Linked DNA regions of Homo sapiens. The protein of the gene in region 4 interacts with the protein of the main gene of each other region in a pairwise test. Each region holds a gene or a part of one and is shown on either strand. Other genes may lie near its edges.

What was found.
Region 1: the proteins of TSGA10 (region 4) and CDK18 interact in binary tests that used the Homo sapiens proteins (3 or more experiments, as listed by UniProt).
Region 2: the proteins of TSGA10 (region 4) and PKN1 interact in binary tests that used the Homo sapiens proteins (3 or more experiments, as listed by UniProt).
Region 3: the proteins of TSGA10 (region 4) and CBY2 interact in binary tests that used the Homo sapiens proteins (3 or more experiments, as listed by UniProt).
Region 5: the proteins of TSGA10 (region 4) and JRK interact in binary tests that used the Homo sapiens proteins (3 or more experiments, as listed by UniProt).
Region 6: the proteins of TSGA10 (region 4) and CEP57L1 interact in binary tests that used the Homo sapiens proteins (3 or more experiments, as listed by UniProt).
Region 7: the proteins of TSGA10 (region 4) and BIRC2 interact in binary tests that used the Homo sapiens proteins (3 or more experiments, as listed by UniProt).

The regions. Positions count from the first base shown.
Region 1 is NC_000001.11:205,511,169-205,514,668, forward strand, and holds part of CDK18 (cyclin-dependent kinase 18), read left to right. Parts: intron 1-1,148; exon of another isoform or gene 1,149-1,292; intron 1,293-3,500. UniProt on the Homo sapiens protein: May play a role in signal transduction cascades in terminally differentiated cells.
Region 2 is NC_000019.10:14,467,806-14,471,305, reverse strand, and holds part of PKN1 (serine/threonine-protein kinase N1), read right to left. Parts: intron 3,431-3,500; coding exon 3,339-3,430; intron 1,966-3,338; coding exon 1,789-1,965; intron 1,555-1,788; coding exon 1,492-1,554; intron 1,395-1,491; coding exon 1,318-1,394; intron 1,144-1,317; coding exon 1,001-1,143; intron 732-1,000; coding exon 624-731; intron 536-623; coding exon 455-535; intron 1-454. UniProt on the Homo sapiens protein: PKC-related serine/threonine-protein kinase involved in various processes such as regulation of the intermediate filaments of the actin cytoskeleton, cell migration, tumor cell invasion and transcription regulation.
Region 3 is NC_000013.11:45,712,320-45,715,059, reverse strand, and holds the end of CBY2 (protein chibby homolog 2), read right to left. Parts: intron 1,879-2,740; coding exon 688-1,878; 3' UTR 501-687; downstream 1-500.
Region 4 is NC_000002.12:99,148,443-99,151,942, reverse strand, and holds part of TSGA10 (testis-specific gene 10 protein), read left to right. Parts: intron 1-273; exon of another isoform or gene 274-1,108; coding exon of another isoform or gene 1,109-1,384; exon of another isoform or gene 1,385-1,460; intron 1,461-3,500. Other genes in the region: uncharacterized protein C2orf15, read right to left, coding at 1,109-1,384. UniProt on the Homo sapiens protein: Plays a role in spermatogenesis. When overexpressed, prevents nuclear localization of HIF1A.
Region 5 is NC_000008.11:142,663,468-142,666,967, forward strand, and holds part of JRK (jerky protein homolog), read right to left. Parts: intron 3,054-3,500; 5' UTR 2,592-3,053; coding exon 885-2,591; 3' UTR 1-884. UniProt on the Homo sapiens protein: May bind DNA.
Region 6 is NC_000006.12:109,098,507-109,102,006, reverse strand, and holds part of CEP57L1 (centrosomal protein CEP57L1), read right to left. Parts: intron 1,816-3,500; exon of another isoform or gene 1,721-1,815; intron 1-1,720. UniProt on the Homo sapiens protein: Centrosomal protein which may be required for microtubule attachment to centrosomes.
Region 7 is NC_000011.10:102,357,214-102,360,713, reverse strand, and holds part of BIRC2 (baculoviral IAP repeat-containing protein 2), read right to left. Parts: intron 1-3,500. UniProt on the Homo sapiens protein: Multi-functional protein which regulates not only caspases and apoptosis, but also modulates inflammatory signaling and immunity, mitogenic kinase signaling, and cell proliferation, as well as cell invasion and metastasis.

The DNA.
Region 1 (3,500 bases), on a different chromosome or scaffold from region 4:
AAGCAGTCGGTAAAAAGTCAAAAGAAGAAAATAAAGTTTTGTGACCCTTAAACATTTTATAAAATTCAAATGTTAGTGTTCATAGTAAAGTTTTACTGGTGTGAGGCCAAACTCATTCATTTACATCTTGCCTGTGGGTGCTTTTGTGCTGCAAAGGCAGAGTGGCAGAGTGGCGACAGAGACGATGGCCCGCAAAGCCTAAAATAGTGGCTGTCTGGCCTCTTACAGAAAAGGTTTGCTGACCCCTGCTCAAGATAATCATAGTTCTCTCCAGGCCTTGCACTAAACTGCTCCAGGATCTCAATCTAAAAGTACTTTCTTTTCATTTAAAAAGAAGTGTTGCTATTTTCTTCTTATGTAAGCAATAAATGTTCATTATGGAAATATTAGAAGATGCAGATAAGCAAAAAGAAGACATTAAAATCACCCATAATTCTATCACCCAGGAATAACTACTGCTGGTGTTTTGACTTACCACCTTCTGGGTTATCTAACAGTGTGCTGTGTTTATATGTGCATGCCTGTGACACATGTGTATATCCTGCATACGTACAGCTTTTACAAACTGTACACATCTGTCCTCTTCACTTAAAAACACATCTTGGCCAGGTGCGGTGGCTCACACCTATAATCCTAGCACTTTGGGAGGCCGAGGCGGGCGGATTACCTGAGTTCAGGAGTTTGAGACTAGCCTGGGTAACATGGTGAAACCCCATCTCTACTAAAATACAAAAAATTAGCTGGGTGTGGTGTCGTGCGCTTGTAGTCCCAGCTACTTGGGAGGCTGAGGCAGGAGAATTGCTTGAACCCGGGAGACAGAAGTTGCACTGAGCCAAGATCACGCCACTGCACTCCAGCCTGGGTGACTCCGTCTCCAAAAGAAAACACACACACACATACCTCTAACTGAACCCTTGGGGGACACACAGGCAGGGTGCCCAGAAGGCAGCTGCACCCAAGCATCTGGAGCTGAGGGGCTTGGTGGGGCCAGGGCTACAGATCTGGAGTCATCAGCACGCGGGTGGTGGTTTCCACTTCGGGAGGGGATGAGGTCACCCAGGAAGCATGCCCAGAGAGGAAGAGCAAAGGGCCAAAGAGAGAATTGTGGGAGTGTTGACATTCAAGGGACAGGTAGAGGAAGTAAGTCCACCAGACCCGGGAGGAAGGAAGAAGCAGGAGGAGACCCAGGCAGCCAAAGGGAGTGGAATCCGAGGCCCAGGGCCCAGGACAGTGCCTGGCGCTGAGCAGGTGCTTGTGAAATGAGTGAGTGACTTTGAGGAGGCTGAACCCTGGTGAGTGAGTGACACTGATAAAAGACATTTAGAGAACAGTTGAACAACTATGAGATGTTCAGAGGCCTGGGGGAGGCCATGCAGGCCAAGGAGGCCTCCTGGGCCCAGCCTGGTGGGAGGGAGGCCATGCGGAGTGTGAGGAGGGAGAGGCGGGGCAATCCAAGTGACCAGAAGCTGGGAGCTGGTCAGAGGAGCCCAGTGGAGTTCTTGGCGGTGACATGAAGCTGCTTTTTTTAAGCTAGTCTCTCAGATTGGAATGAGGAAAGTTGGAGACGACCAGCCAGGGGTTCTTGTCAGAATGTGGGCACTGGGCGGCGTGGGCCAGCTGGTGGGGGTGGAGTATAAATAGGAATATGGTTTAGAGATGCTGGGAAATCCTCCCCATTCCCTCCCCCTCCTGAGACTGAGAGGTCCCCAGGGATGCCAGGCTCAAAGGCCCCTGCAGTTCTGTTGCCAAAGTTGGGCATGGAGAGAAACCCAGAGACAGGACTGAAGGTCCCATGACAGGCCAGCAGGAGAGCTGGACACGGGATATCTGGCTGAGAGAGGGCTATTGGGTGGGTGAACTCAACACTCTTCTTTTCTTCTCCAATTTATTGTGTAAAAGATGGTAGGCACCAGTTTCTGTGCCAGAGCAAGTGGAGAGGAAACAAGCTGTTTCCTCTGGTATTTAAGGAAGACCTAAGGAAAGGTTCCAGACTTTGGGATCTCAAAAACACAGGACAGTTGGGGAAGGACCTTCCTTGAGTGTCTTTAAAGAGGGCTGATAAAAGGAGCAGAGAGGGCTCCTCTGGCTGGGAGAGTAAGGCGGGCTTTCTCTGGAGGCAGGAGGATGGGGGAGATGGAGGCCAGGCCTATCCTGGCCCTTGCCCCTTGCTCTGGTCTCTGATCTGGGATGTTCTGTACGCCCAGGACCAGAACTGACAGAAGGGCTCCTTGTCCCATCTTATCACTTGGACATCCTGAGCCTCCTCAGAGAGTGCAGACCAGCTTTAGCTGGGCCCCCAAAAAAGGTCAAAAGGAAAATACCAGAAGATGCAATATGCACCTCTATTCCTTAAGCCTCAGGAAGCCAGAGAGCAGCAGGGTGGACATCAGTAGGACTGAAGTGGAGCCACACAGAGGGGCTAGATAGGAGGTCGTGTGGGGTCAGAAAGGGTCATCTGTAGGGGTCAAGGCCAACATCTGAGCCTGAGTAGTGCACCTGCCCTACAAGGCTCTGAGAATCTTCCCTGAGTGATAGAGCCAGGAAGAGGGCCACAAGCCCCTCCGAACCCCTTCCCCACAGCCCTGGAGGCCCTAGCTCAATGCATGTTGCAGGAGGAACTTCTCATTCGGGTTCTTCTCATTCCAGTCCACCCCTCACTGTAGGATGGTGCCTCCAGCCCAAAAACCTCCACAGACCTCACTGGGGGAGTAATTGCTGGGCAGGACACTGCCCCCACTGCCTCAGCCCATCTCCCGCTGCTGTTGGGCCACATGCTGGCTAGAGGAAGAGGGTCAGGTTTCAGCTGAGGCCTCGAGTCCAGCTTTCATATTTCATTTGCTGGTCATTTGAGGGCTCACTTTGTCTCAGGCTTTGGGTCAGGCTCTGGGGGTGCAATGACGAGTCACGCCACAGTGCTTGCCCTTAAAAAGCCCACAGGCAAACTAGGGAAATGACAAGTAAACAGTTACAGGACAGGGAGCCAAGTGCCCTGCCTTGGGATGTCAGAAAGCTGTGGGAGCACAGAAGAGGGACCATCACCTGGCTGGGGACAGTGGAGTTTCGGGCTAGAGGAGATGCAGAGGTCCCCATGGCAGGATGAGTAGCACGTTGTTGGTTTCTCCCTAGTCCCCCATCCATCTGCTTGGGTACCAATCCCTGTATTCCTGTTCCCTCTGAAACCCAAGAAAACTGAGGAGGAAGCATGCCCCGGGGAGTCTGGGGCTGGGTGACTGGACAGTCTAGGCTTACTCTAGTGTGCCCAGAAAGAGGACAGGGCCAGGCCCACCCCAATCATGCTCAAGTCTAACTAGGACAGGAGATGGCCTAATGAGAAGATACACCTAGAAACAGGTCCCTGGCCTGCCTGAAAGTGGAAGGAAAGGCACCAACATTTATTGCACGTGGCAGTGTGTCCTGGATCTTAAAGGTGACTAAGATACAGTCTTTGTCCTTGAGGGATCTAATGTTTCCATATCTGTAGAGGAAAGAGGTTTAAACAA
Region 2 (3,500 bases), on a different chromosome or scaffold from region 4:
AGGACCAGCCTGGCCAACATGGCGAAACCCCGTCTCTACTAAAAATACAAAAATTAGCCTGGTGTGGTGGAGTGGTGCACGCCTGTAATCCCAGGTACTCGGGAGGCTGAGGCAGGAGAACTGCATGAACCTGGGAGGCGGAGGTTGCAGTGAGCCGAGATTGAGCCACTGCACTCCAGCCTGGGCGACAGAGCGAGACCCTGGCTAAAAAAAAAAAAAAAAGGGAAAAGTGGAGATGTGGGATTAGGAGGGTCCTTGGGGGGAACAAAAGTGGAGGAGGGAAATGGGGGTGTCAAAGGAGGTGACGATGTTGCCCTGGAGGTGCAACGAGGCCCTTGAGGCGCAACGAGGCCCTTGAGGCAAAGCGGCTAGGCATGGGGGCCGTCTGCTGTGGGGTGATGAATCGGCCCTGGGGGAGGGCCGGGGTCACTGAGGTCCTTGTGGGGAATCTCACCCTGAAGAAGGGCTGTTTCTTCACATCTTCTGCATCTCTCTCGCTAGATCCCAGCCTCCGCTCTGGGTTCCTCCGAAGCAGCTTGGAGGAAGGAGCACTGTGTCAGGATCTGTCCCCTCCTGGGCCCCACTGCCCCTCCCCAGGCCCGCCCCACGTCGGGGGTCCTCACCCTTCTCATGATGCCGATGGCTTCGGCCGACAGGAAGCGGGGGTAGCGAACCTCGTCGTTGACGATGCTGTCGAAGACCTCCTCCTCATCATCCCCTGGGAATGGGGACTGGGGAGAGGGAGGCCCGGGGTGAACGAGGCCCCTCCTCTGGCTGCTCCAAACCCAGCCCGGCCTGAGCCCCACACTCTGCTGCAGCTCTTGGGTGCTGGCTTACTTGGGCAGGGAAATGCCCCATTTTATAGATGTGGAAACTGAGGCCAGGGAAGCAGAGCCAGCAGCCCTCAATCACACAACACATGGTGGAGGCAGACTTGGATCCCACCCTGGGCACGCGCAGGTTCCAATGAGATCCGAGACACACAGGGGCGGGGTCTCACCTCGCCAACCAGCATCTCGTAGAGCAGCACACCCAGTCCCCACCAGTCCACAGCTCGCGTGTACGACGTGTCCGTCAGCACCTCAGGGGCCAGGAACTCCGGGGTCCCACAGAATGTGCTGGTCCGGTCCCCATAGCCCATCCCTGGGGACAGCAAGGCCATGTGAGGTTATGGGGGCCAGAGGAGTCACTCAGCCCAATGTGGGGTTGTCCACACAGCCAGCCCTGTCCCAGGGTCAGGGTGGGGGGCACCCCGAATAGGGTTAGGGACCCCATTCCTTCCCCCTCCTTTGTCTAATCCAGAGGCCAGCCCCTCACCCTCCTTGCAGAGGCCAAAGTCTGCGATCTTGACGTAGCCCTCGGTGTCCAGGAGCAAATTGTCCAACTTCAGGTCCCTGTTGGGGGTTGGAGGGGTGGAAAGAGGGATGAGCGGGGGTCTGGGTCCTGTCCCCACAACGGGCAGTGTGCACATGCATGCACACACGCACACACCTGTAGACGATCTTGTGTTCGTGAAGAAACTGTAGGCCCAGCACCACGCAGGCGGAATAAAAGCTGCAGAGAGAGAGAGGCTGCTGAGAGGGGTGGGGCCACCCTGCAAGGAGGGAGGGTCACATAAGCCTGGCTTCCACATCCTCAAAAGCCCCCCAGTCTCCCCAAAGCTCTGGGAGGCTGAGGGAAGCAAGGCCTGAGGGTGGAGGGGTGAGAAGCAGGCTGCCAGCCTCTCGGGGGGACTAAGTGTCAGATGCTGTAGGGGAGGCAGGGGCCCGGGCTGGGGTCCAGGCTCACATGGCACGGGGCTCAGAGAACACGTCGCTGTGGATGTGCAGCATCAGGTCCCCACCGGCCGAGTACTCCATCACGAAGCACACGTGCTCCGGTGTCTGGAAACAGCCGAAGAGGTTCACCAGGAAGGGGTGTCCCGCACTGGTCACTGCCGCCAATATCCGCTTCTCACACATCAGGCTGGGGAGGGGTGGGGGATAGAAGTCAGAGACCATGGCCGCCACTTACTCCAGACTCCCAGATGGCAACCAAAGCCCATACAGAGGGAAGCAGAACTGAGAAACGTCATCTCAGCACCTGGATACAGCCATGCCTGAAGGTAGCACACTCCTGGACTTTTCAGATCCAGACCAATAAATTTCTTTACTTGTTTCAGTCTTTCTCAGTTGGGTTCCTGATTATCAAAAGGATGCTGGGAAGACCAGGCACAATCTCAGTGCCTGTACCGAATGTTTAGAGGGGTTAGGCACTGTGTAGAGAGCACCTGACAACCATGTGTGGAAGGCAATAGCATTCTGCTTCTCCACAACAAGAGGGGTTCTTTTTTTTTTTTTTTTTTTTTTTTGAGACAGAGTCAGGCTGGAGTGCAGTGGTGCGATCTTGGCTCACTGCAACCTCCGCCTCCTGGGTTCAAGCGATACTCCTGCCTCAGCCTCCCAAGTAGGTGGGACTACAGGCACCCGCCACCATGCCTGGCTGATTTTTGTATTTTTAGTAGAGACGGGGTTTCACCATGTTGGCCACACTGGTCTCGATGTCCTGACCTCAGATGATCTGCCCACCTCAGCCTCCCAAAGTGCTGGGATTACAGGCGTGAGCCACCATGCCCAGCCAAGAAGCTGAGGTTCTGAAGGGAGAAGTGACCTCCCCAGGATCTCCAAGCCCATGCTGCAGAATTGAGATTTGAACCCAGGAACCTGACCCTAAAGCAGAGGCAGTATGGTGGCACCACAAAGGGCACAGGCTTCAGAGCCTGAGTCTCTAGCTTTGAATCCTGGACCTGCTGCTTACTGGCTGTGTGACCTTGGGTAAATTGCTGAACCTCTCTGTGCCATCAGTATTTATCTTATAGGGCTACATGGAGGAACAAATGAATAACTTTCCTAAGAGCTATTATTATCTTGGTATTAGGCTAGTAGGTATTAGTGACTTTTTGTTTTGAGACAGGGTCTCACTGTGTTGCCCAGGCTGGAGTGCAGTGGCGCGATCTCAGCTCACTGCAACCTTGACCTACTGGGCTCAGGCGATCCTCCTATCTCAGCCTCATGAGTAGCTGGGGCTACAAGCATGTGCCACCACACCCAGCTAATTATTTTGTATTTTTTGTAAAGATGGGGGTGTCACCATGTTGCCCAGCCTGGTCTTGAAATTCTGAGCCCAAGTGATCCACCTGCCTCGGCCTCCCAGAGTGCTGGGATTACAGGTAAGAGCCACTGTGCCTGGCGTTAGTGACTACTATGAGTCACTCTCCCTGTAGCTCCAAGGAGAGAACTGCTCTGTCATTTCCCAAAAGAGAAGAAAGAGGTCCCCAGAGGACCACGGCAGGTCCCCACCTCTCCACCTCGTCTCGGGCCACAATGTCCCCTTTCTTCAGAGCCTTGATGGCGAACAGCTCCCCACTGGGCCGGAATTCGGAGAGGAGCACCTGGAACCACAGTGGGCAGGGGTGGTTTTAGCGGCCAGCCAGGGACCTGGGGGGTCTCCCAATTCCCTGC
Region 3 (2,740 bases), on a different chromosome or scaffold from region 4:
TCCACACTTGGCGATTCCAACTATATGACATTCTGAAAAAAGCAAAACTATGAAGACTGTAAAAAAGATCAGTGGTGGCCAGAGGCTGGAGGGGGAGGGAGGGATGAACAGGCAGAGCACAGAGGATTTTTAGCGCAATGAAAATACTCTATATGGTACTACATATACTCTATAATACTCTATATGGTACTACAATGGTGGCTACATGTCACTATGCATTTGATCAAACCCACAGAATGTACAACACCAGCAGCAAACCCTAATACAAACTTACGGACTTTGGAATAATTATGTGTCAATGTAGGTTCAAAGACTGTCACTAGTGTACCTCTCTGGAGGGATGGTGATAATGCGGGAGATTATGCATTTGTGGGACGGGAGTCTATGGGAACTCCCTGTACTTTCTGCTCAGTTTAGCTGTGAACCCAAAACTGCTCTAAAATATTGTCTATCTTTTATTAAAAGAAAGAAAGAAAGAAAGAAAGAAAAAGGCAGCATGCTGGTGTCAACTGGCCCCAGCCTCCTCACACCTTTATTAAAACTCTGAGTTTAGGAAGGCTGCTAACGCTGCTTTTCAATAGGTACGAACTGGCTGGGGAAGGCGAGGACGACAAAGGAAGGCAGGGGATTCTCTTTTGCCCAGTGTTCGGTGTCCCAAACTCGGCGTCCCGGTGCAAGGCCGAGGCCTCAGACCCTGCTAGGCTTCTTGGGGTCCTGGCTCCTGGCCGGCATGAAGGCGTAGAGCTCCTCGATGAGCATTTCCATGCGCGCGGTGACCTCGGTCACGGTGTCAATGACCAGCTTCTGCTGCAGCTTCAGCTTGTTGTTCTCCCACAGGGCCTTGTTCTCCTCCTGGAAGCCCCTGTGCTCTGCCCGTAGCACCTGCAGGGTCCTGTTCTCCTCCTGCAGGAGCCGGTTCTCCTTGAGCAGGGCCTGCAGCGCCTGCCTCATCTCTCTCAGCAGCTGCAGGGGCTGGCAGCCGTCGGGCAGGCCCGGGCCCACCTTGGCCTCCTCCTCCCCGGAGGGCCCGGACATGTTGCTGACCATCTTCCGCAGGGCGCGCAGCTCCTTGGAGTCCTCCTGCCGGGCCGGAGGCCCTTTGGGCTCCTCGAAGCGGGAGGAGAGGCCGGAGCCCTGGTCCTGCAGCAGCCCGGGGCTGCAGGGCTCCTCGTGGGGTGAGGGGGCGGGCTTGCTTTCCTCGGCAGGGGCGGCCGTGTCCTCTGCCTGCGCCCAGTAGGCCTGTTTCTGCTCCAGCAGCTGCTGCAGCGCGCGATTCTCCTCCCGGAGGAGCTGCAGGGTGCTGTCCTCCTTGCCACGGGGCACCTGCAGGGCGACGTGGTCCTTCTTCACCACCTCCAGGGACGCGCTGTCTTTGTGCAGCAGTGGCGAGGGGGCCCGGCTCTCCTCTCGGCCCAGCGAGGCCTTGTGCTCCTCCCAGAAGACCTGTAGGATCTTGTTCTCCTTGCTGAGCATCCGGTTCTCCTCGCGCAGGGCCTTGTTCTCCTCCCGCAGAGACTTGTTCTCCTCCTGCAGCATGCACTCCTTGGCCAGCCTCTTGTGGTGCAGCTTGTGGTGGAAGGAGGCGGATGGGGAGAAGTAGGGAGACTGCAGGCGGCAGTTCTCATTTACCCAGCGCCCGTCCTGGAACACGAACATCTCGTCGCTGAGCTGCACCCGCGGCGGGTTGTAGTCCAGCTCCAGGTCGGCCTGGGACATGGGGCGCTCCATGGGGTCTAAAGGCACGGAGGAGAAGCGGTTCAGTGGATAGGAGTGCTGGCTCGCCATCCTGCGGCTCAGCCGGGGCAGGGCGGCCTGCTGCGCGCAGCGAGGGGTGCTGTACAAGTTGTGGAGCCTCGGGAAGGGTTCGGCTGTGCCCCTCTGCGGGAGAGAATGGGAAAGCCCAGCGTTAACGATGGGACTGACACACTTGGGGCTGGCTGACAAAGGGGCCAGGACATCCCCAAATAAGCCCCGTCTGATTGTCTGGCCTGGCCACAGTGGGCGCTTTTGCTTCTTGGGGTCCTCACAAGGAAATGTGGCCTATCCTTGTCATTCCAGTGAGTTCTGTTCTATGAAGTCAGTTCCAATACTGAATTAGCAAATATAGAACCATTGCTCCTACAGGAAATAGAGGGCTATGTTCCTGTGAGCCTGTGGTCACAGTTTTGTCAACCAAGCAATACATAACCTCATTTAGTGCGTATTGTTGATTCATTAACATCAAATTCACGTCAGCAGCACTGTCACGCATGCCCAAACAAAACTTCTCTAACACATGTGTTTTCTCCATGTGGCACAGCATAGCCTTCTTGTGATTGGGAATACTAGACAGCACTTGACTTGGAATGGTACAGAAGCCATTTTTAACAGCAAAATCACCAACAAAATGCACAAGAAGGCAAAACAAAAAAAGTGGCACTAGATAGACTGCGCAATGGACACTATTTTCTAGCCTGAGAGCTGAAACAAGAAGGCTCCTTGGCTGGGGACTCAACTTCACACAACTCAAATTTTCACCTCTCCGTGCATGTCTGAGAATTACCATAAAAGTGCTACAAGTATTGATTTGGTGGATACACATTTTAGCAAGTAGGCAAATTCACAAATATGGAATCCGTGAATAATAAGAAACAGTTATATATTATGGTGGTCAAAGGCATTCATTTTAGAGTCAACCAAATATTTTGAGTCTTTGCCTCACTACTTACCAATTAACAAGAATTTGAGCAAGTTATTTGAG
Region 4 (3,500 bases):
TTAATAAAATATAGCTTCCCCCCGGAAAAGATGCCCTTTCCTCTTTTAAAATGAATATTAAAGAGATTTCCAACTACCAGATATTTTCATAACTGATATACAAAACAAGGTTTTTAAACAGGTTGTTTTTTCTCATATTAAATATTGGTGACATAAAATGGTACCATCTGCAAGACAAACTATTAACACTTGGAAAGAACACTTTTCTAACTCTAAAATGGATTCTATGTGGGGGGAAAAAGCAGTTTTAAAGGCACGATTTAAAATGTGAAATCCTTCTGAAGATATGCAATTTATTGGTCTTTTGCAGTTTATTGGCAGTGATCTTTTACAGAACAAAAATGCAAAATGTAAGAAAGTAAAGTATCATAAAGCAGAATCCCAAAATGGAAATGTAACATACAAAACTGATACACCAGAAATATTGTGAAATACGGATGTCACATTGCTTGGACTTTTTTTTTTTTTTTTTTTTTTTTGAGACGGAGTTTTGCTCTTGTTGCCCAGGCTGGAGTACAATGGCATGACCTCAGCTCAGTGCAGCCTCCGCCTCCAGGGTTCAAGCGATTCTCCTTCCTCAGCCTCCCAGGTAGCTGGGATCACAGGTGCCCACCACCATGCCTGGCTAACTTTTTGCATTTTTAGTAGAGATGGGGTCTCACCATATTGGCCAGGCTGGTTGCGAACTCCTGACCTCAGGTGATTGACCCGCCTTGGCCTCCCAAAGTGCTGGGATTACAGGTGTGAGCCACTGCGCCCGGCTGCTTGGACACTTTTTTTAACCACTTGTTAAAGAAATACATTAAAATGAAAATGTTTTGATGCCATTCAAATACTGTTACTTAAAAACTCTGGTTTTTAAGAAGGATATAATATAATACCAGAGAAATCTGCTTTGAATCTTGGAAGGCTTTTTCACCCTAAAGCAACTGCCTTTTGAATAAGCATCATAAAAAAATGCAGTGTAAGATGATTCACAAATAGTGCAAAATAAGGCAATAGTCTTCCATCATTTTGTCAGGGTTTCCTAATAAGGTTAAGTTCTCTTTCAACACCCCCCTTAGTCAAAGGCAGTTTTTGGTTTCTTTGGTAATACGTACAAATTGCTTCATTCCACATCTGTCATTTCTAGTCCATCACTTTCTTTGACATATACCACTGAACCCAAGGCTTTCCCAGAAAGAGATCCTGTGCCAGTCCCTTCAATCCTTGTAAAGTTTTCTTGATTTGTGTCTTCTAATCTTATTTTCTTGGTGTTTTGAAATAACTGAGTCGCTGGTTCCAACCTGCTTTTTTCAGTCCCTCGTATTAAGTGATCATCCACTTTTGAATCCATATGTATAGCAGATACCTGAGTAGCAGATTTACTAAGTGAAAATCCCATTAGGATAGCTGAACAAATGTGAAAGTAATTTGCAGGTACCTTTTTAAGTAGTGGAAGTGTTTCTTCAACTTGATTACTGAAAAAAAAAAAAAAAGTAACAAGTGAATGCAGCAGGAATTTCCCTAACTTCATGGCAATGTTTGTTTGAATGAAAAGCTGTGGTGATACTAGAAATATAAAGTAAAATTGCCTCCTACCTTTCAGTGTTTACATTTTCTTTGTGGGAGGGTTTGCAGGTTCTAAAGATTTATTTGAAAGTCTTTTTAAAAGGAAATTTATCTGATTGTATGTTTTATCACCTTTCAGAAAATAGTAGAGCTTCTCTTAGTCCTTTCTTTCATTCTTGCTAGCGAAACCTCTTTATTCATTACTAATGGGCTAAAGAAATAACGACTGAAGGCCAAGTACTCTGCTAGTACTTTATTTTCTGTAAAAAATAAAGATGTCCTATAAAGATACTTGTGATTGGCTGGGTGCGGTGGCCCACGCCTGTAATCCCAGCACTTTGGGGGCCGAGGCGGGTGGATCACCAAAGGTTAGGATTGAGAGACCAGCCTGGCCAACATGGTGAAACCCCATCTCTGCTAAAAATACAAAAATTAGCTGGGTGTGGTGGCATGCACCTGAAATCCCAGCTATTCAGGAGGCTGAGGCAAGAGAATAGCTTGAACCTGGAAGACGGAGGTTGCAGTGAGCCAATATTGCACCACTGCACTCCAGCCTGGGCGACAAGAGCGAGACTCTGTCTTAAAAAAAAAAAAAAAAAAAAAAAAGATACTTGTGATTAAGGATGTCTAGTCTGTAAAAAGAGATGATCGGCCGAGCGCAGTGGCTCACACCTGTAATCCCAGCACTTTGGGAGGCTGAGGTGGGTGGATCACGAGGTCAGGAGATCGAGACCATCCTGGCTAATATGGTGAAACCCCATCTGTATTAAAAATACCAAGAATTAGCCGGGCGTGGTGGCGGGCACCTGTAGTCCCAGCTACTCGGGAGGCTGAGGCAGAAGAATGGTGTGAACCCGGGAGGCTGAGGTTGCAGTGAGCCGAGATCGCGCCACTGCACTCCAGCCTGGGCGACAGAGCGAGACTCCGTCTTAAAAAAAAAAAAAAAAAAGATGATCATGTAGCATGGAGGGAGGCCTTGGGAAGTTTCCCAAAGGAGGGGAGCCTAGGTTAGGGTTTCGCTTTCAAAGATGGGCAGGAATTTGGTAGGCAGAGTTGACCAGGATGGCAGAAGGGACAGGCTTCCTGTACAGAAAAGGTTTGAGAAAGCCCAGGGCTTACTGGAGAAGAGTGATCTACCCAAGATGCTATAGTAGCAACCTGAGATCTGGAGCAGATTCCACAGCTTCGATCGAAATCCCTCACCCATTTTTTTTTTTTTTTTGAGATGGAGTTTCACCCTTTCACCCAGGCTGGAGTGAAGTGGTGCGATCTCGGCTCACTGGACCTCCACCCGGCAGGTTAAAGTGATTTTCCTGCCTCAGCCTCCTGAGTAGCTGGGATTACAGGTGCCCGCCACCAGGCCCAGCTAATGTTTGTATTTTTATTTTTATTTTTATTTATTTTTTTTCCAGTCTATATTTTATTTATTGTGGTAAAATATATATAACATTTACCATTTTAAACACTTTTAAGTGTACAATTCAATGACATTGAGTACATTTACATTTTTGTGCAAACATCATGGTCATCCATCTCCAGAACTTTTAATCATCCCAAACAGAAACTCTAACGTTTGTATTTTTAGTAGAGACGGGGTTTCCCCATGTTGACCAGGCTGGTCTTGAACCCCTGACCTCAGGTGATCCACCCACCTCAGCTCCCAAAGTGCTAGGATTACAAGCATGAGCCACTGCGCTCAGCCTCACCCACTTTTTAGAATGTATTATGTCTTTAATATTTACCTACTGTGGTATCTTTGATAGTTTACAATTTCATACTCATCAAGCTGTAATTACTGACTGAACATTTCTAAAGAATCATCTTGAAACCCTGTTTATCCATATTTGTGACTGAATATCAGTGTTTATAACAAAACAGAGTCCTGGGTCTACTGTAGTAGCCTAAATATAGTACTTACTCAAATATTAATATAACAATTAGGTAAATAG
Region 5 (3,500 bases), on a different chromosome or scaffold from region 4:
AGACTAATCTCTGAATGTCTGATCAAGACGTATTCATGTAAAGGCCATAAGTATGAAATTCTGGGCAACATGGTACATTGGACTCTGAGCCAAAATGCCAAAATACCACACAGGGTCCGTGTCCTCTATCCGGGTGATGAGCAGGGCCTGGTCAGCCACTCCTACTTTCTTCCCAGAAAGGAACTCTACCAAGTCAACTCTCCGTGGGGCCCCCCAACATCTTGGGGCCAGAGCCCATGGGACAGGATCTGCGGGTAACAGAGGATGGTTCCAGAGTCATTCTGCTGAATGAGGCCACAACTGAAGTGAGATGTGCGGCCTGTTCAGCCGCTAGCAGGCCAAGAACTGAGTCCCAGCTCTCGGGCCATCGGACCTCAGGCAACCGTGCTCGGGGTCCACCCAACACGGGGATGGCCGCCAGCCCAGCAGATAGAGCCTTCTGAGACGAAGCCTGTCCAGGGGCGGTGGGCATGGCCTCCTGTCGGCCTGGAGGGCAACTTCTCTCCACGTGGACAGACTGACATCTCCACCCTCTGATACTGCAATGATCAGCCAGCGAACACGAGACCAGATCGGCTCAGCCTGGCCCCCATTCCAGCCAGGGTGCGGCTCTGGCTTGTTCTAGGCTAGGGTGGACCCTTCCAAAACATTTCCTCACTTTCGGATGACACGGCAAGTGATAAAATAAAACCTGTATTGACAGGAACCTCGGGCACAGACCGTCCTGGGCACCCGAGCCACACCCGTGGGCGACCCACTCCTGGAAGGGCTCTTGAGTGTCTGCACATGCCCTCCTGCCTCAGGTGGGGTCGGGGCACAGGACCATGCCACTCCAGGGTGTGGGGAGAAACAGGGCCAGTGGCCAGGGCAGGGCAGAGAAGCCATCAGTTGTCACCTGCTGTGGATGAGCAGGGCAAGGGAGACTGAGCTGTGGCCCCACAGCCACCAGGGCCCTCCTGGAGGGCTTCAACCTTGACCACAGCCCCGAGGGCACCACGCCGCCTCCTCACCTGCTGCTGGCTCCGGAACACGGCACGCAGCGCCCGCAGCTGCCCCACTTCCTGCGCACTGAAGCATGGCTGCCGCTCCGCAAAGCGCAGGACTGCGTCAAAGGCCACGGCCGCCTGCTCCCAGGCCACCTCCTCGCCCTCACCAGGATCTCCTCTGCCGTCCTGGTCAGCTTTCGGAGTCTTTTCTGAACTCCACACAACCTCTGCTGGCGACGTGGCAGCAGGGGGCCGTCCCCCTTCTGCCTCCCTTCCCGCTACCCCCCAGCTGGCGGCCTGGCGCTGGCGAAGCTGGCCCGGGCAGGAGGAGCCTTCCTTCACAAGCTCCAGGATGTGTGCAAAGGACTTGTTGTGGGGCTTCACTGGGAAGCACTCTGCCTCCAACTCCTCCTCAGAGGAGGAGCCTTCGGCAAACGCAACCGACGGCCACAGCTTCCTCCAGGCCCGCCTGAAGACGTGGCTAGGGACTGCGTTCCAGGCACAGGCCACGCTGAATATGGCATCGTTCATGTTGTAGCGGGCGTGGGGGCCCTGCAGGGGGACCGGAGGGTTAATGAAGTTCCTCATGAAATCTCTCCGAATGCCCTGCTCCATGGGCTGCACCAATGAGGCCACGCTGGCAGGCAGGAAGATGGTGAAAACGTTACTGGACACCAGCTCGGCCTCCTGCGGGTGAGCCCGGGAGCTGTCCAGCAAGAGAACGGCTTTGCTGTCTTCCGGCAAACCTATGGTTCTGAAGTGCTCTCTCACCGAGGGCACAAAGATATGATGGAACCAATCGGAAAAAATCTCCTTGTCCACCCAGGCGTTCCCCTGGGCCTTATAGGCGACGGGCAGGTGCTGGATGCCTTTGAAAGCCCTGGGACCGCTGCACTTCCCGATGGCCAAGGGCTTGAGCCTGTGGGAGCCCGTGGCGTTGGCACACATCAGCACGGTCAGCCGGTCCTTGCCCTGCTTGGGGCCAGGCACAGCCCCGCCTTCCGGAGTGGGATTTGGCAGGCACCGCCAGAAAAGGCCGGTCTCATCAGCGTTGTAAACCTGCTCGGCGGACAGCCCGTGCTCAGCAGCCAAGCTCCTGAAAAACGCACAGAACTGCTCCGCGGCCTGGTGGTCGGCTGACTGCTTTTCACTGGATGCATCTAGCTTTTTAATGCCGTGTCTGGCCTTAAAGCGCCAAAGCCACCCTCCGGAGAACACGCAGGGCTCAGTGAGCTGCATCTGCTCGTAGAAGTCCTTGGCCTTCTCGATGAGCATGGGGCCTGACACGGGGACGCCCTCGGAGCGCTTCCCCAGGAACCACTCGTACAGGACGCGGTCCAGGTGCTCCAGCTTGGGCGTGTGCAGCGTGCGCCGCTGCTCCAGCGCCTTGTTGGAGTCGGAGCTGGCGAAGAACCGGAGCAGCTGCGCCTTGTGGGCCCTGATGTCGTAGAGGGTGGACATGCCCACATTGTACTCCTGCATCAGTGCCTTCCGGCTCTCGCCCTTCTCCAGGCGCGTGCAGATGTCAATCTTCTCCTTCAGTGTCAGCACCACCCTCTTCCGCTTCTCCCCTCTGCTCTTCCCGGCAGCCGGCTTGGAGGCCATGGGGAGGGGTGGCTGGTCCTAGCACTTGCAGGACACACGCCTGGCCTGGGCTGCTGCCACTACTTCCCTCTCCTCCTGCTCCCCTTCTGGGGCTCCGTCTCTCCCTCTCCACTCTGCCTGCCTGCTCTGCTGATCCTGAGCACAGGCCCCAGTCCCTCTCGGGTTTCTCACTCCACACGCTGCACCTCCTGCCTCAGGTATCCCTGGTCTTCCAGGCTCCACACACCTAGGCCTTGGCTCCTGGCAGTGCAGTCAGCTGCCAATTCTCTCTGTGGAGGAGGTGACCCTGTCAGACTCCCCTCTGCTGCTCCACACGGCTGGAACTCCGGCCTTCTCTGTGGATACTATGGCAGCGGCTCCCCTCAAACTGACCAGGTTTGGGGTGGTAGAGGTTTTACCGCATAAGCAGCAGGTGCCTCTCCAGGGTCCACAATGGTATCTCCAGGCACAGCACTTCAGGGGCTGGAAAGCAGAGGGAACAGAGAGGAAAGTGATGGGGCGCGCCCAGGACACACATGGCGTCCTCACGACTCTCCTCACCGGGACACTCCAGCTGAAACTCAAGGGCTGTTGAGAGGACCCATGCAAGTGCTGGCATGCACTGTGGGGAGAGGGTGGCCCCGGGAGCAGCCCAGCCTGCCCAGCCCCTGCACGTGCTGCTCAGGTGGACTCTGCCCAACTCCCACCAAGCAAACTGAAGCCATTCGCTAGGGCTGGAAACGAGACGTGGCTCTCATAGGAGCAGCCCGGCCTTTCCTGGGGAAGCGCTCAGGCAGAAGCCATCAGAGGAAGCCAGGAAGTCCGATGCTGGGCGGACCCAAGAACAAACCTCCCACCCGCCCAGCCTAAGCTTCTTGCTGTAACTGCTCGCTGGGCTACCTGAGCTTCTCAAATCCCTTATTCCTCCCT
Region 6 (3,500 bases), on a different chromosome or scaffold from region 4:
AATCCTGGCAAAGGTGGGGCGCAACAGGAACTCTCATTCATTGGTGGGAAATAGAAAATGGTACTGCTGCTTTGAAAAACAGCTGTATGGCTGGGCGCGGTGGCTCACGCCTATAATCCCAGCACTTTGGGAGGCCGAGGCGGGCGGATCACGAGATCAGGAGATCGAGACCATCTTGGCTAACACGGTGAAACCCCGTCTCTACTAAAAATACAAAACATTAGCCGGGCGCGGTGGCGGGCGCCTGTAATCCCAGCTACTCAGGAGGCTGAGGCAGGAGAATGGCGTGAACCCGGCAGCGGAGTTTGCAGTGAGCCGAGATGGCGCCACTGCAGTCCAGCCTGTGCGAAAGAGTGAGACTCCGTCTCAAAAAAAAAAAAAAAGAAAAAAGAAAAAGAAAAACAGCTGTGAGTTTCTTACAAAGCTAAACATAGGGTTACCTGAGATCCAGCAATCATATTCCTAGATGAGTTAAAAATTTTTTGCCCAGAAAAAGCCTGCACATAAATTTTTAGGACACTTTATTCATAATTGATAAAAACTGGAAGCAACTAAGATGTCCTTCAAAAGGTGAATAAGCAAACTGTGATATATCCATACAATGGATTATTTTTCAGTGATAAAAACAAATGAGCTCCCAAGCCATACATATAAAGACATAAAATAACTATAAATGCACATTGCTAAGTAAAGGAGCCAGTCTAAAAGGCAACATACTGCATGATTCCATGGTCCATGACCAAAGTTAGCAAAACCTCTCAATATCTGTTCCCTAATTAATTACTCTTCTAAAATGTAACTGTGAAAATTTACTGATCTAAAGAAGTTCTTCTAAATTCCATAACATCTATTGATATGTTGCAGCAAAAAAGGCAGACTGTTTTGTTTTGTTTTTTTCCTAAGACAGAGTCATACTCTGTCGCCCAGACTGGAGTGCAGTGGTGCGATCTTGGCTCACTGCAACCTCTGCCTCCCAGGCTCAGGCGATTCTCCTGCCTCAGCCTCCTGAGTAGTTGGGACTAGAGGCGTGTGCCATGATGCCTGGCTAATTTTTGTACTTTTAGTAGAGATGGACTTTCACCATGTTGGCCAGGATGGTCTCGAACTTCTGACCTCAGGTGATCCACCTGCCTCAGCCTCCCAAAGTGCTGGGATTACAGGTGTGAGCCACCATGCCCAGCCAAAAAGCAGACATTATGAATATAAGAACTCTGAATTAAACAATGTGAAACTGTATCACATTAAATAAAATTTTATGTGACCAGTAATTACATTTCCTAGGCTACAGATTCTGTAAACTTTCTTTCTTTCTTCTTTTTTTTTTTTTTTTTTTTGAGACAATCTCACTCTGTCACTCAGGCTAGAGTGCAATGGAACGATCTCAGCTCACTGCAACCTCTGCCTCCTGGGTTCAAGCGATTCTCCTGCCTCAGCCTCCCAAGTAGCTGGAATTACAGGCGCCCACCACCACGCCTGGCTAATTTTTGTATTTTCAGTAGAGACGGGGTTTCACCATCTTGGCCGAGCTGGTCTCAAACTCCTGACCTCAAGTGATCGGCCCACCTCAGCCTCCCAAAGTGCTAGGATTATAGGCATAAGCCACTGTGCCCGGCTTTGTTTTTTTTAGGACGAACTTTCTAAAATGTTTTTATTATAATGTACCCTCGTCCATCCATTAATTACTTTGTGTTTTTGTAAATGATAGATAAATATGCCATACCTTTGAAAGTTCTGTGGCATTATATCATTCTTCCATTCATTCATTCCTTTATTCTTGCGTCACACATTTATTAAGTTTGTACTAGGTACCAGGCACTGTACTCAGAGGTAGAGATAAGATGATCAACAAAAACAAGCACAGTAGTTCCTCTTGTGTGCTTAAGCTCTACTGAAATAAACACACTTTAATCAAATCATGGCACAACTGCAAAACTAATTGGTAACATAAGAGCAACTCAAGGTTTACGGTGCAATAGGTCTATTTACAAGAAGAGTATTTAATTAGATCAGGGACACCTCTGAGAAAATGATTATTTGAGCAAAGACCTGCAAGAAGAGGAGTTAAAGACAGGCTAGAACAATCTGGACAAAGAACACAGTAAAAGAGTGCTGCATCCATACTCGCTGTCTCCCATACTCTACTAAATAAAAGTACCCATTGTTGGGCACGGTGGCTCACGCCTGTAATCCCAGCACTTTGGGAGGCCGAGGCGGGTGGATCACGAGGTCAGGAGATCGAGACCATCCTGCCCAACATGGTGAAACCCTGTCTCTACTAAAAATACAAAAATTAGCCGGGCATGGTGGCGGGTGTCTGTAGTCCCAGCTACTCAGGAGGCTGAGGCAGGAGAATCACTTGAACCTGGGAGGCGGAGCTTGCAATAAGCCGAGATAGCGCCACTGCACTCCAGCCTGGGCAACAAGAGCAAAAACTCCTTCTCAAAAATAAATAAATAAATAAAAATAAATAAATAAATAAAAGTACCCATCTGGCTTTTGTACCCTTTACTCCACCAAAAGTTTCTTATCAAGATCCCAATGACCTCCATGTTGCTAAATGTACTGGTCAATTATGAATCCTCATCTCATTTGACCTACAGCAACATTTAACATAACTTATTTTTCCTTCCTCCTTAATTACTTTCTTCATTTTGCTTCTAGAACACCTACTGAACAGTGGGTTTTTCTCTGCTCACTGGCTGCTCCTTCAGTCACCTTTGCAGAGAACTCCAAATCCACCCAAACTCCATAGAATATCACTTTTGGTGATATCAACAACTCCTATCAAAACACTACTATAAAATCCAAAATTATATCTATTGCCAGATCTTTCTCCTCACTTCTGGACTCATTTATTCAACTGCCTCCTCCACCTCCACATCTCAATGTGAATTTCTTAGAGGCATCTCAAACTTAACGTGGCCAAGCTAAAATACCAACCTTTCCTCTCTCTCCCATTCACAAATCTGCAGATTTTCCCATAATAGTAAATGGCACTTCCTCCATTCTAGTTACTCAGGTTAGAAACTTTGAAGCCATTTTTGACTCTTACTCTCACACAATCTGTCAGCAAAGTCTGTTGGCTATACTATCAAAATGTATCCAGATTCTGTCACCTGGATTATTACTTTAGTTTCCTAACCAGTCTCTCTGCTTCCACCCTTGCTTCCCTATGGTCTATGCTCAACACAATTTAAAAGAAATATTCACTTCAGGCCAGTTGCAGTGGGTTATGCCTCTAATCTCAGCACTTTGGGAGGCTGAGGCAGGAGGATCACTTGAGGCAATCACTTGAGGAGTTCAAGACCAGCCTGGGCAACACAGTGAGATCCTGTCTCTACAAAAAGACAAAAATTATCTCAGTTATGTAATTTCAGTTAAAAAAAAAAAGGAAAAAATACAAAATTAGCTGGGCTTGTTGGCACGTGCCTGTAGTCCCAACTACCTGGGAGACTGAGGTGGGAGGATTACTTGAGCCCAGGAGTTCAAGGATGCAGTGA
Region 7 (3,500 bases), on a different chromosome or scaffold from region 4:
CAAGAAACAGAAAGAAAAAAAAAAAAAGAAACGTGACATTAGCAAAGAAACTCAGTAATTTTCCAGTAATCACCCACAAAGAAATGGAGATCTATGAACTAACAGATAAAGAATTCAAAATAATTGTTTCAAGCAAACTCAGTGAGCTACAAAAGAACACAGATAATGAAATAAAAAAATATATACAAACAAATGAGAAATTCAACACAGAGATAGGAATAATAAAAAGAAACAAATTCGGGAGCTGAAGAACATAACAACAAAAAATGCAATAGAGAGCATCAATAGCAGACCTGATCAAGCAGAAGAACCTGTGAACTCAAAGGCAGATCATGTGAAATTATCTAGTCAGAGGAGAAAAAAAGAAAAAAAAAAGAATAGTGGAGAAAGCCTACCTGAATTATAGGACACCATCAAGCAAAACAATATTTGCATTTTAAGAATTCAAGGCCAGGCACGATGGCTCACACCTGTAATCCAGCACTTTGGGAGGTTGAGGCGGGTGGATCACATGAAGTCAGGGGTTCAAGACCAGCCTGGCCAACATGGCAAAACCCCGTCTCTACTAAAAATACAAAAATTAGCTGGGCATGGTGGTGCACACCTGTAGTCCCAGCTACGTGGGAGGCTGAGGCAGGAGAATCACTTGAACCTGGGAGGTGGAGGTTGCAGTGAGCTGAGATCATGCCACTGCACTCCAGCCTGGGTGACAGAACAAGACACCATCAAAAAAAAAAACCCAAGAAAATGAAAAACAAACCCGAGAATTCAAGAAGGAAAAGAGAGAAAGGACAGAAAGCTGATTTAAAAAAAAAATGCTGAAAACTTCATAAATCTAGGGAAAGATATCCAGGTACAGGAAGTTCATAGGACCCCATAAAGATTCAACCCAAAGAAGACTTCACTGACACACATTATAATGAACTGGCAAAAATAGAAGATGAAAGAGAATTTTAAAACTGTAACAGAAAAGAAACTCATCTTCTACAAGAGAAACCCTATAAGACCACAAGTGGATTTCTCTGCAAAAACCTTGTAGGCCAGGAGAGAGTTGGATGATATATTCAAAGTGCTGAAAGACAAAACTACCAGACAAGAATATGTATCCCAGCAAAGCTGTCCTTCAGAAATGAAAGAGATATAAACAGTCCCAGACAAACAAAAGCTGAGGGAGTTTATCACCACTGGACGCGCCTTACAAGAAACGCTGAAGAGTTCTCCAAGCTGAAATGAAAGGACACTAATTAGCAACATGGAAACATATGAAAGTATGAAACTCACTGTTAAGATAAATATATAATCAAATTAATAATATACTAAATTTGTAATGGTCATGTGTAAATTACTTAATTCTAAAATACAGGTTTTTAAAAAAAAGTATTAAAAATAACTATAGCTTCAATAATTTTTTCATGAATACACAATATAAAATGCAAATAATGACATCAAAAACATAAAATATGTGCAGGAGGGTCTGAGTAACAGTACAGTTTTTTAATGCAATTGAAATTAAGTTGTTAGTGCTTGAAACAGACTACTATAACTATAAGATGTTCTATGTAAACCTCATGATAGCCACAAAGTAGAAACCAATAGTAGATGCACAAAAGATATAAAGGAATCAAAGCATACCACCACAGAAAATCATCTAAACACAAGGGAAGACAGCAAGAGAGGAAGAAACAAATAATCTGCCAAACAATCAGAAAACAATTACAAAATGACAGAAGTCTTTACCCATCAATAGTTACCTTGAATGTAAATGGGCCAAATTCTCCTATCAAAAGATAAAGAGCAGCTGAATGGATAAAGAAAACAAGATTCAGCTACAGGTTGTCTACAAGAGACTCAATTCACCTTTAAGCACATGCATGGGTATAGGAAAAAAGATATTCCATGCAAATGGAAACCAAAAGAGAGCAGAGGAAGCTAAAGTTTTATCAGATAGGGCAGACTTTACATCAAAAACTGTAAAAAGAGTCAGAGAAAGTAATTATATAATGAGAAAGGGGCCAATTCCACAAGAGGATACAGTATCTGTAAATATATATATGTACCCAACATCAGACCACCTAAATAAACAGAGAAAATATTAACAGATCTGAAGACATTAATAGATAGTAACACAATAATACTAGAAGACTTCAAAAATCCTACTTTCAATAATGGATGGGTCATCCAGACAGAAAATCAGTAAGGAAATATTGGACTTCAACTATACACTGGATCTAATGGATCTAACATACAGGTTGAATATTCCTTATCTGAAATGCTTGGGACTAGAAGTGTTTTGAATTTTACATTTTTTAGATTTGGGAATACCTGCCTTATGTTTACCAGCTGAGCATCCCTAATCCAAAAATGCAAAACCAAAAATGTTCCAAAGAGCATTTCCTTTCAGCATCATGTTGGTACTCAAAAAGTTTTAAATTTTGGAACATTTTGGATTTTGGATTTTTGGATTGGGGATACTCAACCTTTATACAGAACATTCCATCAAACAGCAGATAATACACATTCTTCTTAAGCACACAAGAAAAATTATCCAGCGTAGATCATGCAGCAGGTCACAAAACAAGACTCAACAAACTGAGGAAGACTGAAATCCTATCAAGTATCTTTTCAGACCACAATGGTATGTAACCAGAAATCAATAACAGAATGAAAGTTGGAAAGCTGACAACTATGTGGAAATTGAACAAAATACTCCTGAATAATCAATGGGTCAAAGAAGAAATCAAAAAGAAAATTTTAAAAAATCACAAGAAATATTAAAATTGAAATGCGACATAGCAAAATGTATAGAACAAATGCAGTTCTAAAAGGAAAGTTTATAGCAATAATCGCCTATATTTAAAAAAAATCTTAAATAAACACCGTAATTTTACATCTAAAGGAACTAGAAAAAGTTAGCAGAAGGAAATAACAAAATCTCATGAAATAGAGACTACAAAAACAATAGAAAAGACCACTAAAACTAAGAGCTGGATTTTGAAAAGATAAGTAAAATCAACAAAGCTTTAGTTTGACTAGTAAAAAGGAAGACGAAAATAAATAAAATCAAAACCAAGAGATGTTACCATTGATAACACAGAAACGCAAATGACCATAAGAGACTACCATGAACAATTATTCACCAAAAAACTGTATAACCTAGAAGAAATGGATGCATTCCTAGAAACTTGTAATTTATCAAGACTAAAATAAAGAAGAAATAGAAGATCTGAAAAGACTTATAACTAGTAAGGAGATTGAATCAGTAGTCATAACTCTTCTGACAAAGAAAAAGCCCAGGAACAGATGACCTCATAGCACAGTTCTATCAAGAAGAAGAAAGAAGAAGAAAGGAAGAGGAGGAGAAGAAGGAAGAGGAGGAGGAGGAGGAAAGAAGGAGGAAGAAGAAAGAAAAGGGAGGAGGAGGAAGAAGGAAGAAGAGGGAGGGAAGAGGGAGTAAGGAGGGAGGAGGGGGGAATACTTCCAAACTCATTTTATGAAGCCAA